Homo sapiens: one gene and its partner. The protein of the gene in region 2 purifies or fractionates together with the protein of the main gene of each other region. This does not show direct contact. Each region holds a gene or a part of one and is shown on either strand. Other genes may lie near its edges.

Region 1 (7,000 bases), on a different chromosome or scaffold from region 2:
AGAAATTAACATTCATGCTCTGCTGGCGAGGATGTAAATAGGTATAGACTTTCTTGAAAAAAATTGAGACATATATGTTTGTATGTGTGTGTATATATATGTGTGTGTATCTATCTCTCTATATATAGATATATGTGTGTATCTATCTCTCTATATGTAGATCAGCTCCATGTCATCCTTAGTCAATTCTCATAAGGAATGTCTTCACTTTTACAATCAAAGTCAGGCTGTATTAGATAGGCATATGTATAAAACCCAGACTAATAACTATTATTTTCTTTGTTAAACTTCTGAGAACACCTTCGAATAATAGGAAAAGATGACTTCCTGTTAGGAACTGTAATTAACTATGTGTTTCCTCTTCCTGGGTGCTGTCTTTAACCATCAGTCACCATAACCTGCTTATATAACAAATAAAACTGAGATCTAGACTTGTTTTTAAATTTTAAAGTGTTAAATATTCTATTTTCTCTCTCTCTCTCTCTCTATATATATATATATACACACATATATATGAAGAGCCTTTAATTTATTTCCTAGCCTTTGATTCAACAATTCCAATTCTAGGAATTTGTCTAAGGAGATAATCAGAGGTAAGAAAAGAATAGCTGTAAGAAGGTCCAAGAATAAAATATAAATTTTAAACAAAAACCTATGATAGAGCAAGAGCACCATCAACTCAGACAGACATCGCCACTTTAAATTCCAGTTCCCTTTCTAGTCTCATGCATTTCAAGGAAATCACTTCTGTTCGAACTACAAGCAGCCAGAAAGAGCAGACAGTAAAACACAAATAAGACAGCTCGGGCGCAGAGGGAGGTGGGGGGAAAGTCTCTGGAGCAACTGCCAAACTTCACCCTCACAAAATGGGCCCCAGTAAAACAGTGAGCCTTACTTAATAAGCACATTCCTTTCCCTTCAGGTGTACCAAGATAGGGAAGCAAAAAGCAGACTCGGGCGGGGTATGCCTACAGCTGCAGAAAGATGGATGGGAACAGACACACAACTCTCCCTCCCAGAAAAGCACAACAAAGAGACAGAGAAGCAGTCCAAGCCTCTGATAAACTCTCCCACCCTGAAGCCTTAGAAACTCTTAGTCTGTAGGAGAGTGTGTCTCTAACCTAACTCAGCCAGCCGCCCCTCTCAGGTTTATTCAAAATAAACCTGTCAGGCCGGGTGCGGTGGCTCACGCTTGTAATCCCAGCACTTGGGGAGGCCGAGGCGGGTGGATCACGAGGTCAAGAGATCGAGACCATCCTGGCTAAAACAGTGAAACCCTGTCTCTACTAAAAATACAAAAAAATTAGCCGGGCGTGGTGGCGGCCGCCTGTAGTTCCAGCTACTCCGGAGGCTGAGGAAGGAGAATGGCGTGAATCTGGGAGGCGGAGCTTGCAGTGAGCCGAGATTGCGCCACTGTACTCCAGCCTGGGCGACAGAGTGAGACTCCGTCTCAAAAAAATAAAAAATAAAAAATAAAAATAAATAAACAAATCTGTCCCTGTTGACTGTCAAGCCGCCCTTTGTGTTTCTCTCCTCTTTCTTTAATTCTTACAACCTATATGTCCAATAATAGGATGTTTGTTATAGTTGATTGTAATGTAACTGTAGGTTAGAATACTTTACTCATTTAAAAAATTATCTTGTCATAAAAGATTTTTAACAACCTGAGAAAATTTAAATATTTCTATGAGAAAAGGTAAGATATGTGCAATATATTATGTTATACTGCATATAATAATATGTAAGTATTATGTGCAATTTAAATCCATGTCTTATCTCAAAAGGGATTATGTAACTATATATGTATATAATAATGATAATTATTATCATTTTAAATTTATTGACCTGGGTGCAGTGGCTCACACCTGTAATCCCAGCACTTTGGGATGCTGAGGCGGGCAGATCACCTGAGGTCAGGAGTTCAAGAACAGCCTGGCCAATTGCCAAATGGCAAAACCCTGTCTCTACTAAAAATTAAAAAATTAGCCTGGCATGGCCTGTAGTCCCAGCTACTTGGGAGGCTGAGACACAAGAATCGCTTGAGCCTGGGAGGCGGAGGTTGCAGTGAGCTGAGATCGCGCCACTGCACTCCAGCCTGAGTGACAGAGCAAGACTCCGTCTCAAAAAATAAATAAATAGGCCGGGCGCTGTGGCTCACTCTTGTAATCCCAGCACTTTGGGAGGCTGAGGCGGGCGGATCACGAGGTCAGGAGATTGAGACCATCCTGGCTAACACAGTGAAACCCCGTCTCTACTAAAAATATAAAAAATTAGCTGGGCGTGGTGGCAGGCGCCTGTAATCACAGCTATTCAGGAGGCTGAGGCAGAAGAACGGCGTGAACCCGGGAGGCGGAGCTTGCAGTGAGCTGAGATCCCGCCACTGCACTCCAGCCTGGGCGACAGAGCAAGACTCCGTCTCAAAAAATAAATAAATAAATAAATAAATAAATAAATAAATAAATAAATAAATTTTTTGATACTTAATATGTGCCAGGCACTTTTCTAAGCACTTTACATAGAATGTTTCATTTAATTCCCACAACTGTATGAGGTTAATACTATCATTATTCTCATTTTGCAGATTAGGAAATCAAGACATAGAAAAATTAAGGAATTCTCCCAAGGTCACACAGCTAATAAGTAGCACATCTAGGAACTGAACCCATGCAGTCTGACTCCAAATACATACAAAAATACACATATAAATACATACACATAGGCCAGGTGTGGTGGCTCACGCCTGTAATCCCAGCACTTTGGGAGGCCAAGGTGGGCGGATCACGAGGTCAGGAATTGGAGACCAGGCTGACCAACATGGTGAAACCTCATCTCTACTAAAGATACAAAAAATTAGCCGGGTGTGGTAGCACGTGCCTGTAGTCCCAGCTACTTGGGAGGCTGAGACACAAGAATCGCTTAAGCCTGGGAGGCAGAGGTTGCAGTGAGCTGAGATCGCACCATTGCACTCCAGTCTGGGCCACAGGGTGAGAATCTGTCTCAAAAATACATACATACGTACATACATATACACATATGCATTTACTTATTTATATACATATACAGATATAGCATATATGCACAGATAATTAACATGTATAAGTCATACTCCAAAATGTTAAACATGTAGGTTAACATTTTTATTTGTGCTTTCTTTGTATTCCACATTTCCTTATTGAACATATATTAATTTTAGAACTTAAATTTTAAAACTTAGAAACTTATCTTTTCCATATTCTGCTAGCAAAATATTTTTGTCTAAGCAAGGAAATACTCCAGTGTGCCATGGAGACTAATCCAATTCCCACTTGGATGAATATTCTCCAAGATTTCCTAGCCATACAAATGCCCTGTCTCTCCCACAGTGCATTAAAATTATGGCCATCTAGTAAGGCCATTTCAAGCCCCATCTCTTTCTGAAGTCTATTCAGATATTCTTTCTTTAATTTCTGCTGCACTTATAGACAGTACAGAGCACAATACTTAATTGTTCTCAAATTGTTTCCTGTGTATTAGCTTTGGCTCCTCAATTGGATACCAGGTTCTTTATACACTAGCATCATGTCTCACCTTTTTGTTTTGTTTTGTTTTGTTCCCCACCCTATGTCACTTCTAGTACTGGCCCAACAGGAAATGTTCAATAAATACTTGATCATAGACTGACAGATGTTCTTCAAGTAACATAACTATAGTGTAATAGGAGCTTTCTGAAAATTATGGCTAATTCATTAAGAGTGAATTGATTCCAGTGATGGAAATTCATATGATGCAAAATGTGCTGCAGAAAAGAGAAGATTTGGCTGGGCACAGTGGCTTACGCCTGTAATCCCAACACTTTGAGAGGCCGAGGTGGGCAGATCACCTGAGGTCAGGAGTCTGAGACCGGCCTGACCAACATGGTGAAACCCCATCTCTACTAAATACAAAAAATTAGCTGGGTGTGGTGGCGCATGCCTGTAATCCCAGCTACTCGGGGGGCTGAGGCAGGAGAATTGCTTGAACCCGGGAGGCGAAGGTTGCAGTGAGCCCAGATTGCGTCATTGCACTCCAGCCTGGGCAACAAGAGTGAAACTCCATCTCAAAAAAAAAAAAAAAAGAAAAGAAAGAAAAGAAGATTCATTTTAATACTGATTTAATTGATATATATTATTTTAATTCACTCAGTTTAAAACTAGATTTTTCCCACAAAATTCCAGATATTAGCAATATCCCTGAAATAAATGAGAGATCCTCCTACATTACTCTAATCAAATGATAATTAATTAAGTCATGAGGCATAGAAACAATTTGAGACACAAAATAAATAATGGTAATATTTGGGTTATAACACTTAAAATACAATAACTATTAATTGATAGTGATAAAACTAAGCCAAATAAACAAATAAATGTGGGAGAAGGGATAGTTTTTCCTTACTGAAGAATTTCCTTACTGTAGAATACTAATAAATGTAAAATTAATGAGAAAAAGAAAGTCACCATTAGGCAAACACCATAGTAGTAACTGTTACAGGCAAGATCCACTGAAGGATGCTAAACTTAGTGAGTAAAAGTTTGAGAAGAAACAGGACAGTCTCAAAGTACCTTCCCCAAGATATTTGTTAATTACAAAAGGAAAAATAATAACCCTACCTTGGAAAAACCTAGCAGAAGACACCTGACAGACATCACCTTAACGAAGTGCTCAAGGTCAATAAAGCACATCCATTTCATGCACCCCCACATGAGATACTAAGAAAGGCACAACATCACTTCTGAGGAGTTCTTTCCAAAAATGCATAACCTCAATCTAATCATGAGAAAATATCAAAGTCAAATTGAGGGACATTCTACAAAATACTGACAGTAGTCTTCATACTGTCCAGGTCATGAAAGACAAAGAAGGTAGAAGAAAGCATCAGATTGGAGGTCATTAAGGGTTAAGCGTAATAAGGGATCCTGGCTTGGATCCTAGAACAGAAAAAGGGCATTATTAGGAAAACTGATGAAATTAGATAAGACTTATAATTTAGATCAGGGATTGATTGACTCTGGCCTGCTGCTGCCTGTTTTTTAATTAAAGTTTTATTGGAAGACAGCCAAGATCATTCACTTATATTGTCTATGGCTGTTTTCTCCAATGGCAGAGCTGAGTAGTTAGGACAGAGACTGTAAGGCCTGCAAAGCCTAAAATATTTGCTATGCCAGGATCAGCATTAGGTGAGGCAAGCAGGACACCTAGGTCTAAGGAAATATCCTCTCTCTCTCCCTCTCCCTCTCTCTCTCTCTCTCTCTCTGTCTCTCTCAAATTTCTGTACATGCGCAACCCTAAATGTTAGTGCCTCCTTAAATTTTGCATCCTACACACCCTACTTGCCTCATTCTAGTCCTGACTCTGTCTATCTAGTCCTTTACAAAAAAATGTTTGCTGGACCATGGTAGGGTTAACTATAGCAATGTTAATTTTCTGATTTTTTGGTGGTTTGTGCTTGCGATCGGTGGCTGCGTCACTCTGGTAAAGGTGTGCAGTTTTGGGCCATGATCTCTGGGCTGGGATGATCCAGGCTCTCGGTAGAGGCAAGGGAGCCCAGCTATAGCCATGGCCAGTACAATGGTAGCAGTTGGACTGACCATTGCTGCTGCAGGATTTGCAGGCCATTATGTTTTGCAAGCCATGGAGCACATGGAGCCTCAAGTAAAGCAAGTTTTTCAAAGTCTATCAAAATCTGCCTTCAGTGGTGGCTATTACTGAGGTGAGTTTGAACCCAAAATGACAAAACAAGAAGCAGCATTAATGCTAGGGGTAAGCCCTACTGCCAAAAAAGGGAAAATAAGAGATGCTCATTGATAAATTATACTCTTAAATCATAGCAGCCAAAATCAGTGAAGCTAGAAATTTACTAGAAGGTCAAGCTAAAAAATGAAGTAAATGTATGATGAATTTTAAGTTCATTTTAGTTTATGTATATGAGTACCAAGCTTTTATAATAAAATGCCTCAGAGCTATAATTTTTTTTAATTTCTGATTTTGATCATTATACTTTCATTAGGTATGATGTTAACATAAAGGGAAGCTGGGTTAAGGGTATATAGGAACTCTGTTGTACTATTTTTACAACTTTTCTGTAAGTCAAAAATTATTGCAAAATAAAACATCTTAAAAATAATGCAAACTCAAGGATAGGATAAGTGTACTAAGTTCCAAGTGCACAGTAACACTGTGGGGGCCAAAACAACAGCCACAACCACAACCACCACAACTTAGCGCTCTGCACCAGGCACTGTTCAAAGTACTTTATATATCACGTATTATTTAATCCCCACAACTCTGTGAGGTGGGTACTATTTACTTCCATTTACAGGTTAGAAAACTGAGGAATAGAGGCCGGGCGCGGTGGCTCATGCCTGTAATCCCAACACTTTGGGAGGCCAAGGCGGCGGATCACTTGAGGTCAGGAGTTCAAGGCCAGCCTGGACAACATGGTGAAAGCTCATCTGTACAAAAATACAAAAATTAGCTGGGCATAGTGGCATGCACGTATAATCCCTGCTACTCAGGAGGCTGAAGCAGGAGAATCACTTGAACCCAGGAGGCTGCAGTGAGCTGAGATCCTGCCACTGCACTCCAGCCTGGGCAACACAGTGAGACTTCATCTCAAAGAAACAAAAATTTAAAAAAAAAATCCAATATAGGGAGAAAGGCTAACTGTCTTGGAATCAATCTTTGTTAAATTGTTTTGAAATGGGGAATATATTGTTTTCTATATAACATGGAAATCCTCCCATAATTTATATATGTCATTATGTAAACTAGAAAATTAGTCTCATTGCTTGTTTTCATGGTTGTATTTTCAATTTCTGAAAGATAATTTTAAAAACTCTCTGAGAAGGAAAAGCTTCAGGATTACTGCTCTAGAACCATTAGAAAATACATAATTTTACTTTAATCAATTTCTAGCACAAACTTTAAATTGTAAGAACTATATACCAAAGCAAAAGTATTATGTGGGTGTCTCAATTCAATT
Region 2 (16,979 bases):
AAGGCAAAAGGAAAACAAACAACTTAGATGATTGCAAGGAGGGTGAAAAAAAGGTAAAAAAATAATGATAATAACCCCTAAATGGGATCATTTAATAATTGCTCTCTTTTGGCAATCTTCAAACTAGCTTCAGCCAAGGATGTGTTGCTGCAACTATCACTCTATGATGGATCTCAGAGATAAGGGCAGTGATTTAATATTTAAAAATCAGGTTAGAATTTCCCCCAGTGATGTGTTCTTCATTTCCTCTAAGTTAATTGAAGACTCTGTTCTCTCCATCCCAACCCACCTACAAATAAGCAGACATCTTCTCACTCCAGATGATACACTGTGATTACCAACACAATTCCTGATGCAATCCTAGATGATCTCAGAATTTTCAGCATAGGAACAGGATAGATAGTTTCCAGTGCCAGCATAGTATCAAATCAAACAGCACCCTCTCCTATATAAAGAAACTGGTCTTGTGATGAGGAAACTAAATGTCCTATTTCTGTTTTTATTAACCTTTACAATAATATCATGCATGTTTTTTCAGTTGGCTGATAATAATATTAAGATTAAGTTCAAGGCCCAATAGACTTCACATACATTGTGTCACGTTGGGCTTTTAATGACCTTTGGTTGAAGCAGAGTAGATGTTTTTAGGGGAACTGAGGTCCAGATGGGTTAAATGGCTTAGCTAAGGCCCCGTGACTAGCTGATGGCAGAGTGAAAACTCAGGGCTGCTAACTCCTTCTCCAGGAATTTATCCACTGCACCCAGCTGTCTAATTGAATTGGCCTGCCGTTGGCACTGTATGGACACAGCCTTGGATGACATAATTGTCTGTAAAATATTTCCTCAGATTTCCATTACCACTGTTTATGGTGCCTGATCCTTTCTTCGAGGTCAAAAGAGAAAAAGAAATTATTTGCCAAATCAGGCTTCTAATTCCCCTGCTATGATCATCATAGAGGCATCATAATAATGCCTCATAGTTGTACACTTTACAAAGCACTTTCACTCATATTATGTCGTCCCAGCAATCCTGTTAGGTAGGAATTATTAATGCAATTTTACAAATAAAGAAATTGAACCTAAGTAGCAGCTAGTGTTTAGCCAAGCCAGGATAACACAGGTCTGAACCCCCTAACTGCAATTGCAGCTATCTTTCCACTGCACTAGCAGCCCAAGGCATCACGCAGAGCTAGGTTCCTTATCTTAACAGCTCTCATCAACCGCCACTGCCCCCAAACAAAATGCATTTGTAAGGGAGGGTGTTTGCTGATGGGTACAGAAACCATTAGGTACATGCTGGCAAGAACACAACAGCTTTTCTGGGCTTTTCCAGCCTCATCCCTAACCAGGATCTTTCTTGAGGGTTCAAACTACAGATTTGGGCCTGAGAAGATGCTATGAACATTTCTATAAGATAAGGGAAGAGCTACCCCAACAATATATAATATAAGGAGAGTGACTCATCTTCGCAAAAAGATACATTAAGACACATAAACAATGAGACTTAGGGGAATACCGTGTGCCTATATTCATGTATCTCAGTTTTTCATAATAAACATGCTCCTAGGACATGTGTAAATTCAAATTTGAACAAATCAAATCAAGTTGCAGGCTCTTGCTACTTAAGATACCCTGTTTGGCTCTTGTGTTTTCATTTTCAGGTGTGAAGCTCACGTTTTTGAAGTACTGACCTCCTAACCTGGCAATAGTCTTCAGAGTTCCTAACCAGCTAACTCTGCATTAATAAGCCACAGCTTAGGCAATTCTGCTTATTTCATTGCTTGACAGACAACTCCCCTTTTAAAGCCTCACGAAGTTTGGTTCCTTTGAATCTTTCACCACATTATCCAGAAATTGATTCAGTAATGTTTCATAGCAGATAACAGGTTTGTACCCAGGCACACGGTCACTTTTAAAATTATGTAATGATATTTCACATTCACCTGAAAGAGCCTCAGTGCTTTTACCAATCCACCAACTTCATTCTTCAAGGAGAAAACAACTGCTGTCTTGCCACTTTCGGTAGCAGCTTCACGTTTGCTGCTTCCCTTGTTGCCTTTGTCGTCATTTTTGCCAGAGTTAGGTTTATTTAGCTTCAGGAATGTCGAAGCATAATAAAACAAAATATTAGTTAGGGTTCCAGAATCCTCCGTAATTAGATTTTTCCCATACATGTCATTCATAAGCTGGAAGCTCCACCAATCATACAAACTTAAGGTGAAGTTGCCGTGTCACTCATAACTTTCAGTCATAAATATTGGTCTAATTTATTCTGAGACACTATTTTCCAATGGTCTAAGACATCATCTAGTGGTTGAAATTAAAAGGGGATCAGATTTGCTTCACTTTAATAGCAACAAAAACCTGACTGTCGTAACGCCTGCAATATCATATATGAAAAATTCCTGCCTTTCTAGGATTATTTTACAGCACAAAATTTGATCTCTTAGCCTCGTTGAATCCTATGGAAACTATATTAATTACTAACCATATTAAAAATAAGATCAAACATATTTTTGAAAATAATTTTAGTTTCAATTAAATTTTAAAAACAAAATATCGATTTCATTCCAAAATATGTCAGCACATGCCCAGAAATTAATGGGTAGTATTACTTTCTTCAGTTAGATCCACATTGTCAATGTGAATCTGCCTGCAAAAGTTCAGCACAGACACATGTATAACTAACTCTAAGGCCATCTGTGTCAGAAGATAATATTTGAGAAGTGACTATTAAAATTCAGTGACAAATAAAAGGAAAAAAGGAGAAAGGCAGGAAGGAAGAAACCTGGCCAGCTAATTATTAGGGGCAAACAGTAAAAATCTGAGAAACTGAAAAAGATTAACACTTCATTAGCCACTTAAGATTTTATATTGCCTGATGAAGTAATGTCTATTAATCCTGCTGGCTAAAGAAAAAAATGACAGATTCCAGTAACTCAGGTCACATTGCCAGAAATGCAGAATAAAAAGCTGGAAACTTTATTTAGGAATAGAATGGGAGGAAACAAAACAAAAACAACAAGCTGGAAACTTTCATTTGACAGACAATGCAAAATTATGTGGTCTGTTTTATATTCTTTATATGCAAATACAGCATTGGGCAGACATAGAAGTAACTCCTGGCAAATGGTGATTTAATACAATCGTACCAATCTACTACATCCTCATGAAACTGAGAAATGTAGGTTTGCTTTGGGACCCAGTGAATAGTTATCTGCCATTGTCTTCTTCTGATTTCTCTACTGGCTTTATTTTCACACATCAGTATTGCCTTACTCACTAGATTTATATATAATAGAGATGGAGATTTTATTATTTATGACTTGAGGGAGGGAAGAAGTTTATGCAGACATTGACATTTGACAGTATGTTTAGTCATTAAAAGCTCAAATGTCTCAGTGTTCTTAACATCTGCCTCCTCCTCACCACACAACACACAGATCTTGCATACAGAAGTAGCATTTTTTATATAAAAGGGTCATACATTAACCATTACCCTGAGCTTACTTTGTTTTCCTTCTAGCAGTTAATTATGACTTCAAAACTCTTCATTGTAATATCTCATCCAAATATTCATGATATTTAAATGTTAAAAAATCTATTTACATTTTGGCCTCATTTTTGCAAATTGATTTAAATAATTCTACAGAAGTTGCCATGTTTACTTTTCAACATTTTTATCAGTAATAATATGTCAGTCCAACGCAGCCCTCTGGCACATATTTGGAGCTACGAAATTAAAACAGATGATTCTATGATACAGACTGAATTGGATTTGGTTGATAAACTCTGATAGTACAGTAATAAAATACCATTTAATATTTTTAATGACTAGGACCTGGATACATTTTTATTTCGTGGTTTTTATTAAATCCCATGACTACTACCTGAAAGCAGGATCTAAAATCCTGCAAATACTGCTTTTTTATCCTGTAGATATTATAAACATAAAACTCCCTTAAATACTATAGCAAGTGGTGTATTGCTTTCATTATTCCATCAAGTAAACTGAAAAAAATTGAGCAATGTGAAACACAGAAAAACTTTTGAAAGGAATCCAATCTTTCTTTTATTCCAATAACCTGCACCCATAACTAAGAAGAGAAAATAATAGTTCTATGTTTAAAGACCAGGCTTTGTAAACTGAAGGGGGTGTAGGAGACACAATGATCTTCTGAAAACCGTGGAAATTTATTTAATTTGTTCTCCCTACTCCTCCTCCTCATAATAAACGGCTTTTCAAAATTCTTCACACTCCATTTTTTTTTTTTTTTTTTTGGCTGTAGATTTAAGACATTGATTCATACAATCTCTCATTCTTAATGTTCAGGAACTTCTTAACTCTCTACTTACAAACTTTGCGGAAAAAAAGTTGAGCACGCAGTGATTGGCACACTCGCTTTACTTATGGAGAGAAGAGGAAGACTGGAGGCAGACAGGAGGAAAGCAGGGTAGACAGATTATAAAGAAGGAGAAATTTGAGGTGTGCGTGCTTACACTACAAAAGGGATTCATATGGTGAGGAGAAGATGGTCACACCCTAAAAAATAATTCTCCATAGTGCCAGGTACGTAGTACTCACTGTTGAGCTGCCAAGTAGCTGATGCTCTTCGGGCACTGCTGAATCCAGGGAAAACCCTCTCCGTGCCCAGTATTTACTGGAAAACATCATCATTGCTGGCTGCATGGATCCCGGTGTAATATTCTTTCTCTGCAGCAGGGGGTACTAGAGGGGCAGTAGCAGCGCTGGCGGAGATTGAGAGGAAGGGGCGTGCGATCAGCTGCCTGCTTGGGGCGCTGTCCAGAACCCTGGTGCTGAAGAGCAATGCGAATCCTCCCATCCCCGGGCTCCTTTATATGAATGACTGGAGACTGATGCAAGACTGATTAGAAAGAAACTCATTTCTGGTTGCCGATGGCCACAGTCAGATTACAGACCTGAAGCCTGGGGTTATCTGTGCTCATAGTGTGATTTGTTTCATAGGTCGAGTAGCTTTTTGGGCGGGGGTGGTGGAGAACAATACATAAGGGGGTGTTATTTGTACAAGAAACCATCTATCCTCTGACGTTAGTTCTCTCATCTCTCAAGCCTGCCACTGGCAAGTTAACCTCAGTCTTTAAGCAATTGTGAATTCAAAGATTTTGTGCTTTCTTTCCAAAATTAGAAAAATAATTTAAGAAAGATCAGCACTGCTGAATGCTTAAACCATTTTACGGATTTTTTAATTTTTAATTTTTATGGATAACTAATAGTTGTACACATTTATAAGGCACATGTGATATTTTGACACAAGCGTACAATGTGTAATGATCAAATAAGGTAATCAAGATATCCATTGCCTCAAGCATTTATCATTTCTTTTTGTGTTAGAAACATTCCAATTCCACTCTTCCAGTTATTTTAAAATACAAAAGAAAATAAATTATTGTGCTCCCGAACACTAGATCTTATCCCTCCCATCAGCATATTTTTTTTACTCATTGACCAACTCCATTTTATGTTAATAAGCTTTTTCTGACTTGACATATTCTAATTTTGTGCATGCAAATGTGTGAGTGTATATATGTGTAATGGCTTTCATAAAAGGGCTTCTTCTTAATCCTGTGATGCCTCTATGCAGAGTTATATGGAGGAAAATGTATTGCAAAGGAAAGGTAAGGGTTCAATTTAGCCACATGTAGATTACATATAGCTCAGATACTAATCCTGGAATCTTCCTTACTAAATGAGAAATAAAAGGAAACTAGATTCCCATATATCAGCCATTCATTTTAATACTCTTGTGGTTTTTCTCTCTACTGGAAATCATGGAAATTTAATCTTTGACATGACCCTTTCATATAAAAAGTGCTACTTAAATATACGAGATCTGTGCGTTATGTGGTGAGGAGAAAGCAGAGGTTAAGAGTACTATGACATTTGAGCTTTTAATGACTAAACATACTGTCAAATATCAATGTCAACTAGATCAAATCCAGCAACTTGACATGCATAGATTAATCAATATTCTTACTATTCAAACCTTAGAAAGTCATAAAATTCACCAGGCCACAGGAAAATGTTACCAATCTCCTGAAGAATGAAAAACTCTTGACCAAATGTGCTTGTTTGACTGAAAATCTAAACAAAATCTGGTGCTGGCACTGCTTGTCTATATAGAAAAAAAATTTCAAAACAAGTCGGGATGAACTAATATTGACTGAAGTTTAATTGTTTCTGGAGTCTTGAAGAGACATAATTATTAATTGATCTAATTCTGAAAATATTATTTGGCTTACATTTTCTGTAAGGGTCAGCTCTAATCAGCTAATAGGAGAAGCAAGTTTAAATAAGGCAAATGAACTAATGACAATAATAGTAGCTAATGTTACTGAGATGTAATGAAAGAACCAGAGATGTGAAGGGATAAAATCCACTAGATAGTGTCCCTGCTTGGATGTGGAAATGAGGGAAAAAAAGATATTAAAAGTAATTTATTTATAATATATATTTAGAATATTAAAGATTTAACTACTTTTGCTCACCCTGGAAACCCTATTAAAACAAGATAAAAAATTCCTTTTCAAGGTACACAAGAGTCGCATAAGTTGGAAAACAATGGCAACAAAAAATTAGCAGCTTGAAAGAAGAAAAAACTGATCAAAGGCTTTGCAGTCATGGGAAAGCTGAACCTTAAGCTATCAATGAAGAAGACTTAGAAGCAACGCACTTTACATGACAGAATACCCTAAAGGCTCAAATACCTCTGGAATTGAAGGTAGATGAGACTGAAAAAGAGTGGTTCAAAGTGTGAGAAGCAGTTAGACAAATCAAAACTTATAACAAAGTTACAATAATCAAGACAGTGTGGTACTAAGGACAGATATATAGGTAAATGAAATAGAATTGAGTGTCCAGAAATAAACCCTTACATGTAGAGGGAATTGATTTTCAACAAACGTGCCAAGACAATTCAATGGGGAAAGAATGATCTTTTGAACAAACTGTCCCGGGACAACTTTGGATATCCACATGCAAAATAATGAAGATGGACTTCTATTTCACATTGCACACAAAAATTAACTCAAAATGAATCACAAACACACATGTAAGAACTAAAATTAAAATTCTTAGAAGAAAGGATAGGAGTAAATGTTTTTGACTTTGGATTAGGCCATTGTTTCTTAGATAGGACACCAAAAACATAAGTACCTAAAGAAAAAAATAAGATTTCATCAAAATTAAAAACTTCTGTGCTTCAGAGGACACCCTCAGAAAAGTGAAAAGACAACCCACAATGTGGGAGGAAATATTTATAAATCATATATCTCATAGGAAACAGTATCCAGAATAAAAAATTCCTACAACTCAGCAATTAAAAAAACAGACCAATTTTTAATTGGGAAACAAAATTTATTTGAGACAGCTGGCTTTGTTACCCACAGTGGAGTGCAGTGGCACAATCATAGTTCTTGGCAGCCTCAACCTCCTGGGCTCAAGTGATCCTCCTGCCTCAGCGTCCCAAGCATCTGGGACTACAAGCACAGGCCATCACACCCAGCTAATTTTTTGTTGCTGTTGTAAAGGCAGGGTCTTGCTATCATGCTCTGGCTGGGCAAAAAAAAATTAATAGACATTTCTCCAAAGAAGATATGGCCAGTGCAAACAGGAAAAGGTGCTCTACATCAATAGTCATTAGGGAAATGCAAATCAAAAAACACAGTATGACTTCTGACCGACTAGGATGGCTAAAATAAAAAAGACAGACAATAACAAATGTTGGTAAAGAAGCAGAAAATGTGGAACACTCACACATTGCTGGTGGTATTATAAAATGGTACAGTCACTTTGGGAAACAGTTTGGTGGTTTCTCAAAATGCAAAACATAAAGTTACTGTATGACTCAACAATTTCACTCCTAGCTATGTGTAAAATGGTGTAGTCACTTTGAAAAAACGTTTGGCGGTTCCTCACAAAGGTAAAACTAGAGTTACTACATGATTCAGCAATTCCACCCTTAGGTATACACCGAAGAAAAATGAAAATATACATCCACACAAAAACTGTACATGAATGTTCATAGCAGCATTATTCATAATAGCCAAAAATAGAAACAACTCAAATACTATCACCTAATGAAAAAAACAAAAAATGATACATGATAAATAAAATGTTATTTAGCAATATAAGGAAATAATGTACTGATACATGTTACAATATGGGTGAACCTTGAAAATATTATGCTAAGTGAAAGACGCCAGTCACAAAAGACCATGCATGTATTGCAAGATTTTGTTTATATGAAATGTCTAGAAGATGTAAAAAGAGATCGTTTTAAAAAGAGAGAGAGACACACACAGAAAGTAGATTAGTGGCTGCCAGGGACTGGAAAAAAAGAAGAGGTGGGGAATAGCTGCTAAAAGGTACAAGGTTTCTGTATGAAAATGAATTTTTATACAGAATTTATCACTAATAAAATTCATACAGAATTCATCACTAATAAAATTAAATATTAGTGATATTTACACAACTTTGTGAATATACTAAAAACCACAAAATTGTACACTTTAAGGGAGGGAATCTTTTGGCATATATATCATATCTCGATAAAGCTGTTATCTTATTTTTAAAAAGGAGTTAAAATTCCATATTCCCCTTGACTAAATAGCCAAGCCACCTCCTCTTTTGCCCCCAGGTAGAAAATTGAAGGTTATTCTCTGGAAAGGGTAAAACAAAGGGCCTCTGTACTTAGGAGCATCAGGCATAGTTGAGAATACGGGTACCATTCTGATTAAATGAATGTATTGAGGTAGTGAGACTCATGATATCATGACATGGAGACTCCCAAACCTCAGAAGTCTGACAGCCAGGCATTTATTCTCCAGCCAAATAAAGACAAAAAATATCTTTGGAGAATCTGGCAAAGGCAAGATCTTAAAACACACTGAAAGCTCAGATAATATTGAAAGCTCTGAACAAAATAATGCAAACAGATTACCCTGTAGGTAAGCTCACATTTGACAAGCCTCAATTTAAATATTTGGTAGAGAGTGTGGGGTTAGATTAGTGACAACTGTATATAAAATCAGCCAGTAAAAAACCTTGATAAGAATTAACTCCCCAAGAAAAATGAAAATTAGGGCTGAAGGGGAGCATGTCTCATTTGGGGATTACAGTTACGAAGTCATAACATAAGCACTAAATATTGACCTAACCAATATTATATCAATTATATTAGAAGACAGACAGATAAGAAAGTGTGTATGTGAATAATAGGGGCTGTGGGGAGAGGGTAAACAGCTAAATTCTTGTCTTCCAAGATGAAAAATCAATGGTTAATGCCTAGAGCTGAAAATCAAAGTAGTAGCAGCATACACATATTACAGCATTGGGACATATGGAAGTAAATACCACAAGCATGACCTGACAGTTGAAAGTCTCGCCACTGGTGGGGGTTGGGGAGGGTAGGAGGATATGGATGGCGGGGAGAAGGAGAGGAACAGTTTCTCATAACAAAAAGTCTTGTGGAAACCATGTACCTGTGTGATATTGATTACAAAAATATAAACTTTAAAAATACATTATGCCGGGCATAATGGCTCAGGCCTATAATCCCAGCACTTTGGGAGGCCAAGGCAGGATGATTGCTGAGGCCAGGAGTTTAAGACCAGCCTGGGAAACATAATGAGACCCCATCTCTACAAAAGACAAAAATAAAAATAAAAATTACTAGTGTAATGGTATGTGGCAGTATTCCCAGCTGCTCAGGAGGCTGAAGCAGAAGGCTCGCTTGAGCCAAGGAGTTCAAGGCTGCAGTGAGTTATGGTCATGCCACTGCACCCTAGCTTGAATGACAGAGCAAAACCCCATCTCTAAAGTAAATAAATAAATAAATAAATACTGCATGGAAATAAGACATTTTTAAAAATAAAACTAAGTTTAAATCTTCACTCTGCTATTTGCCTACTTATGCTTAATCAGGACACATTACTTCACATTTTTCAGCCTCCATTTCTGTAATAGTAGGGCAATAATATCTAAACCTTATAGGGCTGTTATGCTGATTGTATTGTATATGTATAAAGTGATTAACATGGTGGCTGGCAGATATTCGACACTCAAAGTGTTAATTATCTCCCTATGCCTCATTGATTCTGAAGCCAGAGTAATATAAAATTGAGCATTGGTTTGCAATATTTGACAGAAATTTAAGAGACGTGGATACCTAGGTTTTAATGAGGTGGTTGCCCTCATAATTCATGATAAGTAAGAAGTCAATAGTCACAAGGTAAGCCAACAGAAGTGGCTTGGATCAAGCAGCTAAAGAGGCTAGGCATCAGGAAGCGAAAAATTGGGTGGGAAAATATAAAAAGAGATACTGTCAGATAAGGAGACCTCCAATATAAGATCTTACAGGTGTAAGAGGGCCATGTGATCATGAATGGCCATGACGGCAAACAGCTGAGATATGAAATAGGGGTCCACAAAATTAGGGAAGTTTTATATTAAGAACACCAATGAGTCCTCAACATAGGTATTTGTTGTCATTGAGGAAAGCAGTGAAATGAGAGAAATACTATAAACTAGTCCTTAAAACACCTGGAAAAATGGAAATGGCTTCTGAGAGGCTGTAGCCCATATGAACAAAGAAATGAAAAAGGCAATATAAATAAACTAAGACAACCAAGGGGATGCTGAAGCATCCATGGCCCACAACTGGAAGAGACCAACCTATCCACACCTACCAATTTCCATTTCATAGACAGAAAGTGAGAGGCCTGAGGACTCCTTATTTCTTCTCCTTCCCTTACCACTCACACCCACCATGCTGGCCAAGTTAGAAGCCAGCTGGAAATGCAATGTCGTGAAGAGAAATCTAGGCTTCAGCAGTGCAAAGAAATGTGTTCGGGAGAAAGAATGGAAGGACATGAGTAGACTTAAAGTAAGGGAGAATTTGCCTGGCAACACCCCAGTGTGAATGGAGAAAGCAGGTGTAAAGTTATTAAAGGATAGATATTGGATGTGAGAGTTTGGAGATACTCAAAGCAAAGTGAGAGTTTCAAGATTGGAATTCGACAAAAAGTCTGATTCCTTTTCCTTTAATAATTTGTCCTTTAGGTTTTAAGCCATCATTCCAGTCTATCAAGTATGTGTCACAAGCAAATTTGGTGCATGTGCTTACTATGCTTAAATTCATGTTGAACAAGGCAAGAGAAAGGGCTGACCTTTATATTTATAGCACACAATCAAGCTCACAATTAGTTTGGCTGGATTTTTTTCCCATCAACTTTGTCTTCTAGAGATTATAGGGTATACTTTGGTCTTCTTGGCAGCAATTGTTCTCTATTACTACCAACTGCTCCTAATTTTGTCAAATTAACCACATGAATATCATACCAAAATAAGTTTATTGCCTATCTAAGGTGCTTCCTTGATTTAGTAGTATTGTAACTTATCAGTAAAAGGAAATGAAATAAGCATGCAATTTTTTACCTTTAGGAAACTCAAGCAGACTCCTCCATAACACCATTTTATTTTCAAGATATGCACAAACCAACATCTCTCCTGACTTTGAGTGAAAAGCCTTGATTATTAGTCTCAATAGTCAATATGAGTGATACACTGTGCTCAGATGAAAATTTCTGAAAATTAATACTCAAGTGGCTTTTAGCACTTCAACTCATATTGTAACAGATGGTGTTTATAACACAAAAAAGTATTTGTTCCTGCTGATTACTCTCAAATACTACATAAACTATCATTTTGAGAGGGAAAAAGGATAAACAAAGAAAAATTGCACTGAAACTTTGCATGAAGGCTGTGTCAACCATCTAGACATGCAGATAATACAATCTGACCTGAAATCAAGCAGGACAATTTGGTATCAGAGTCTGACCAAATTGACCTAATGTTGAAGCATAACCAAAAACAGCTGTCCACAATATTAAGCATTAATTTGTTGCCTAATAAAATGTTCACTGACTGTCAGACACCATAATTTCCCATACTACTAAAAATGTTTAATGCAGACATGTCATTTTTAATTTTGATTATTTATTGACTTGAGGGTGATCAGACTTCATAAATAAGCAAAACATAAGCTGTATCTTACACTCATCTTTCATCATTTTTAATAATAATTTTTATAAAGGGGGAATGGATAAAAGGCAAGCATATCTAAGCAAATATGAAGAAAACTGAAGCATAAAAAGAATGGTGATTTATGGTGGGGTCAGTGAGGCTGTGGCTCAGAAGAAACCAGAATACACAGTTCAGATTTGGAGTCAAAATGACCTCAGTCAATAGAAAAAAAACCAATGGGTGCCTCAAGGCTCTATCTGTAGGATAGTATGTTTGGGGAGGAAAAGCAAACCATGTAGCTTTAAGATTCAAAAAGATAGTTTGTGGCAGTATCTATTTGGTTGCCATGAAATAATAATGATAGCATTTATAAGTGCTTTATCATGCCCAGTACCATATTAGACATTTTATATGTACTCCATTTACTCCTCACAACTGAGGTAGGTAATATCCTCATCTACAAATGAGAAACTGAGGGCTGAGAGGCCTGGTCACAAAACTAAGAAGCAACTGAACCAGGTCTCAGACCCATGACGGACTCAATCTGTGTTCTTAGTCTAAGCTTTTTGTTTTACTTCATAAGTAGACATTTTCTAATATGAACAATTCAGTTTGACTAAATTATTTTCTGACATTTGACTTCCAAAGCTTATAGAATAAATTTTATATTCTTTGCAAGAATATAAAGCACCTTATAAAGGTGACCCAGGCATCCAGACTCCACCCTGAATTCACCTTGAACTTGAGAAAACAAGCCCCTAAAGCAAGTTGTATTATTTGAAGTACCACCTATCAACACGGCTCACATTATTTGAGTTTACATGGGTATACAATTCTAAATTGTGGCCAAGAAACTTTGGGTCAGTGATAGCATATAAATTATAAGAGAACAAGAATAAAAATAAGGCATATAAAACTTCTACTTTTTTTTCTTCTTCTTCTTCTTTTGAGATGGAGTCTTGCTGTTGCCCAGGCTGGAGTGCAGTGGCACGATCTCGGCTCATTGCAACCTCCACCTCCCCGGTTCAAGTGATTCTTGTGCCTCAGCCTCCCTGTTAGCCTGGATTACAGGTGTCCGCCACCACACCCAGCTAATTTTTGTATTTTTAGTAGAGACAGCGTTTTGCCATGTTGACCAGGCTGGTCTTGAACTTCTGACCTCAGGTGATCCACCCACCTCAGCCTCCCAAAATGTTGGGATTACAGGCATGAGCCACCGTGCCTGGCGGCAGTTTTTTAAAGCAAGCTTAACAACGAAGACTGTATTTTTTAAAATCCATGGTGATGCTCTTAGACAATGTGAGACTTTAAGGAAAACTCAGGAAACTTAGGAAATTAAAATATGAGTGAACCCTGGACCAAGGCTAGGCCTCTTATGGATCCACTCGGTATTGTGAAGCTATCAAATACAATATTTATAATTCAAACCTTCTTACAGAATAAACTCTCTTCTAAACTTACTTCTTTATGTCTAATTCTGAGGGGTAGAGCTGAAGAAGGATGTGGAAACCTCAGCAATCCAGACATGGGAAAAAGTGTCACAAAATCAAATTCAGAGTGACCCATAAAAATGAGAATTTCTGTGGTAAAGAATCTCCTTTTCTACAAGTGTTGTGTATGTGTGTGTGTGTGTGTGTGTGTGTGTGTGTGTGTGTGTTGTTTTTTTAAAGGAAGTTGTATTCTTATGTTCAGAATGATTCAGTTGTCCTGTTAGGATTAAGGGGAATACATTTGGAGAAAGAATTTTTTTTGGTGGGAGGGCAGATAGTCATCACCTCAAGCACTTATCGTTTCTTTGCATTAGGAACATTCCAATTCTACTCTTTACTTTGAAATATACAATAAATTATTGTTAACTATAGTCACCCTGTTGTGCTACCAAACACTAGATCTTATTCCTTCTGATTGTATTTTTATACGCATTAACCACCCCTTCTTTGTCCCACCTCCCCACCACCCTTCCCACCCTCTGGTAACCATCATTCTACTATCTCCATAAATGCAATTTTTCTTAGCCTCCACATATGAATGAGAACATGAAATATTTATCTTTCCATGCCTGGCTTATTTCAATTAACATGTCCTCTACTTACATCTGTGTTGTCACATCAGAATTTTATTTTTATGGCTGAATAATATTCCATTCTGTATATGTACCACATTTTCTTTATTCATCTGTTGATGGATGTGTAGGTTGAGTCCATATCTTGGCTCTTATAATCATGCTGCAATAAACATGGGAGTACGCATCTCTCTTGGATACTCTAATTCCCTTTCTTTTGGATGTACACTCAGCAGTGGGATTGCTGGACCATATGGTAGTTTTTTTAGCTTTTTTTTTTTTTTACTAACTTCCAAATTGTTCTCCATGGTGGTTGTACTAACTTACATTCCCACCAAGTGTATGAGAGTTCCCCTTTCTCCACATCCTCTCCAGCATCGGTTATTGCCTTTTGATAAAAGCAATTTCAATCGGGAAAGGATTCTAGTGTGTCTGACTGATGGCTTCAGAATTCTGCCATCTGAACTAATTGACCACATTCTTATTCCTTAAATTCCATCCCTAAGATGTGCCTTTGCCAAGACAACCCATCCACTATGTAAGCTGTAGCTTATGAAGCGCTTTTCAGGTATGAAATGTCAATGAAAAGGATTTTCTCCTGTCTTCACTTGTCAATAAAACTTTGGCAAAAGTCATTCTCCACAGAAAGTTCAAAGGTTAGTTTAGAAAAACATTATTAGTAGGATGTGGAGGAAGCTAGTGAGAACTATAGTTTCTCCTCCTTTAAGAAGTCATTAGCTTTTACACAGAATGCTTAAAAGCTCTGTTAATCAAAAAAGAATAATTTGTCCCAAAGTTATTCAAAAGTTGAATAACTTTGGGATAAATATTTGAGCAAGTTTTAAAAATTCAGCTTTTAGACTTCACTACTTTACACCTTGATGTGCGAAAGAAGGAATAGCAGATGTCCATTTGGGGGAAGAAGTGTGTAAAGGGACATCTATGTGTTTATAATAGTATTACTTTTAAAAGTACAAAAACTAAAAGAACTTACATTTCACTCCAAAAACTTAACAATTTAATCTCTATATAATCTATTAGGGTTACATGCTGTTAACTTTTTTTTTTTAAGAGATAGGGTCTTGCTCTGTTGCCCAGGCTGGAGTGCAGTGGCACCATCATAGCTCAATGTAACATTAAACTTCTGGGCTCAAGCAATCCTCCCGTCTCAGCCTCCCAAAGTGCTGGGATCACAGGCATGAGCCACCATGTACAGCCTAAATACTGTTAATTTCAAATGACTTACTTCCTAGTCAGCAAATACTACATTTGGCTCATTTAAGACTTGACTTAGCTAACAAAACATGTGGCCAAAATCTTTCGGTACGTACTCCATATTCGTGCCCCTGACAGTGACTGTAGGTAGCATGCAGTGTTAATGCTGACATTCAGAAGTACCTTGATGGCTCTCCTACTGGAGAGCAACTTGCTTTCTAAAGTGAGTCAGTTACACCAATGGAAGGGATTCTAGTACCTACATGATCAGGGAAAACAACACTCAAAGCCATAGAAAAATAGCTCTATTTCTATTTTTAAAGCAGTCTACCAACCTACTGTACTGGGTCCTGTGCTTCCAATCAGACTAGTGTGATATTGGACACATTATTGACTGTCACAGTAAAAGTCCATCTTAGAAGTTAATAGGTCTTTTTAATTTAAAAAGCTAAGCTAAACTGACTGCTGCTCATTGATCACAGCAAAGCTTACTGGAATTTCTTTTCGTTCTGTCATCTTTTGCAGAGAGAGGGGGTATGTGAGGGGCAATATACTATCTAGATCATTTGAGAGGGAGAGGCATACTTAATAGTTCACTTCCTATTATTCTAACATCCTGATTTCATCAATAGGGATTGAATCACATTAGGCAAAAATGATAGGATTCTTGATTCCTGATCGTTCTTAGAAGACTTTTGTTTACAATCACTTCTTTTAAACATTGATTTCATAAACAGTGTAATTTCCCAGGTGGCTGAAAGAGGTGCTGTGGATATTAAAAAAGAGTGTGGATGTCCAGTACAACCGCAGGCACTCCCCCAACCTTTCTATCTAAGGGTGACACACCATTTTTCCCTGTGTCAAGATGCATGGCCTGAAAATTAGAAGCCTGCATACAACAATGGGGAAAGCATCTGTAATTAGAAAACTCCTCAAAAATATACAACTTAAATTCCCCATATTGTAAGATCCCAAGGGAAGAACAGGCCAAATATGGTTGCATTATTCAAACGGCAGTGTATATACATATGTCCAAGTACAGATACTTAGTATCAGGTAATGAGATTAGGTACTGATGGAAGCCTTTCAGATTCCAATAATTTAATCTTGTTTCGTGCTCAGAAGTGACACAGAAAGCTTAATTTTCTTCAGAAAGTAAGAAATGAGAAATCTACATATAACAGGCTGAGCTGTCATCACTTTTTACTAAAAATGGCGACCGGAACTAGAGCAAATATCTTAGAAAATCAAGGGACAAGCTTTTAAAAATTAAGGGAATTGTCCACTTGGCCATAAATCAAAAGATTAACATATGAAATACAATATATAATGGTAGTGCTCTAACTTCAGAGGGGCTCAAGAAATCACCTGGATGCTTGTTAAAATGCAGATTCCTGATCTGACTTCCAAAGACTGATTCTGTAAGCCTGAAGTAGCACCTAGACATGTATCTTAATAATACAGACCAAGGATCTGGAAACAAGCATTCTGAAGACATTTTAATTAATGGGAGCTCAGCACACAAAATCATTAGCATAAGTTAGACATTGTTACTATTCTCCTGTTAAATAACTTGTAACAATGGTTACCTACATTTGAGGAAAATAAGAGAACACTTTCAGAAACTATGTGACCTGC

The links.
Region 1: the proteins of TPH2 (region 2) and DNAJC12 purify together in Homo sapiens (affinity purification with mass spectrometry; 2 studies listed by BioGRID and IntAct, with this or other methods). This does not show direct contact.

The regions. Positions count from the first base shown.
Region 1 is NC_000010.11:67,828,189-67,835,188, forward strand, and holds part of DNAJC12 (dnaJ homolog subfamily C member 12), read right to left. Parts: intron 1-7,000. UniProt on the Homo sapiens protein: Probable co-chaperone that participates in the proper folding of biopterin-dependent aromatic amino acid hydroxylases, which include phenylalanine-4-hydroxylase (PAH), tyrosine 3-monooxygenase (TH) and peripheral and neuronal tryptophan hydroxylases (TPH1 and TPH2).
Region 2 is NC_000012.12:71,926,698-71,943,676, reverse strand, and holds the start of TPH2 (tryptophan 5-hydroxylase 2), read right to left. Parts: upstream 4,833-16,979; 5' UTR 4,691-4,832; coding exon 4,586-4,690; intron 2,094-4,585; coding exon 1,944-2,093; intron 1-1,943.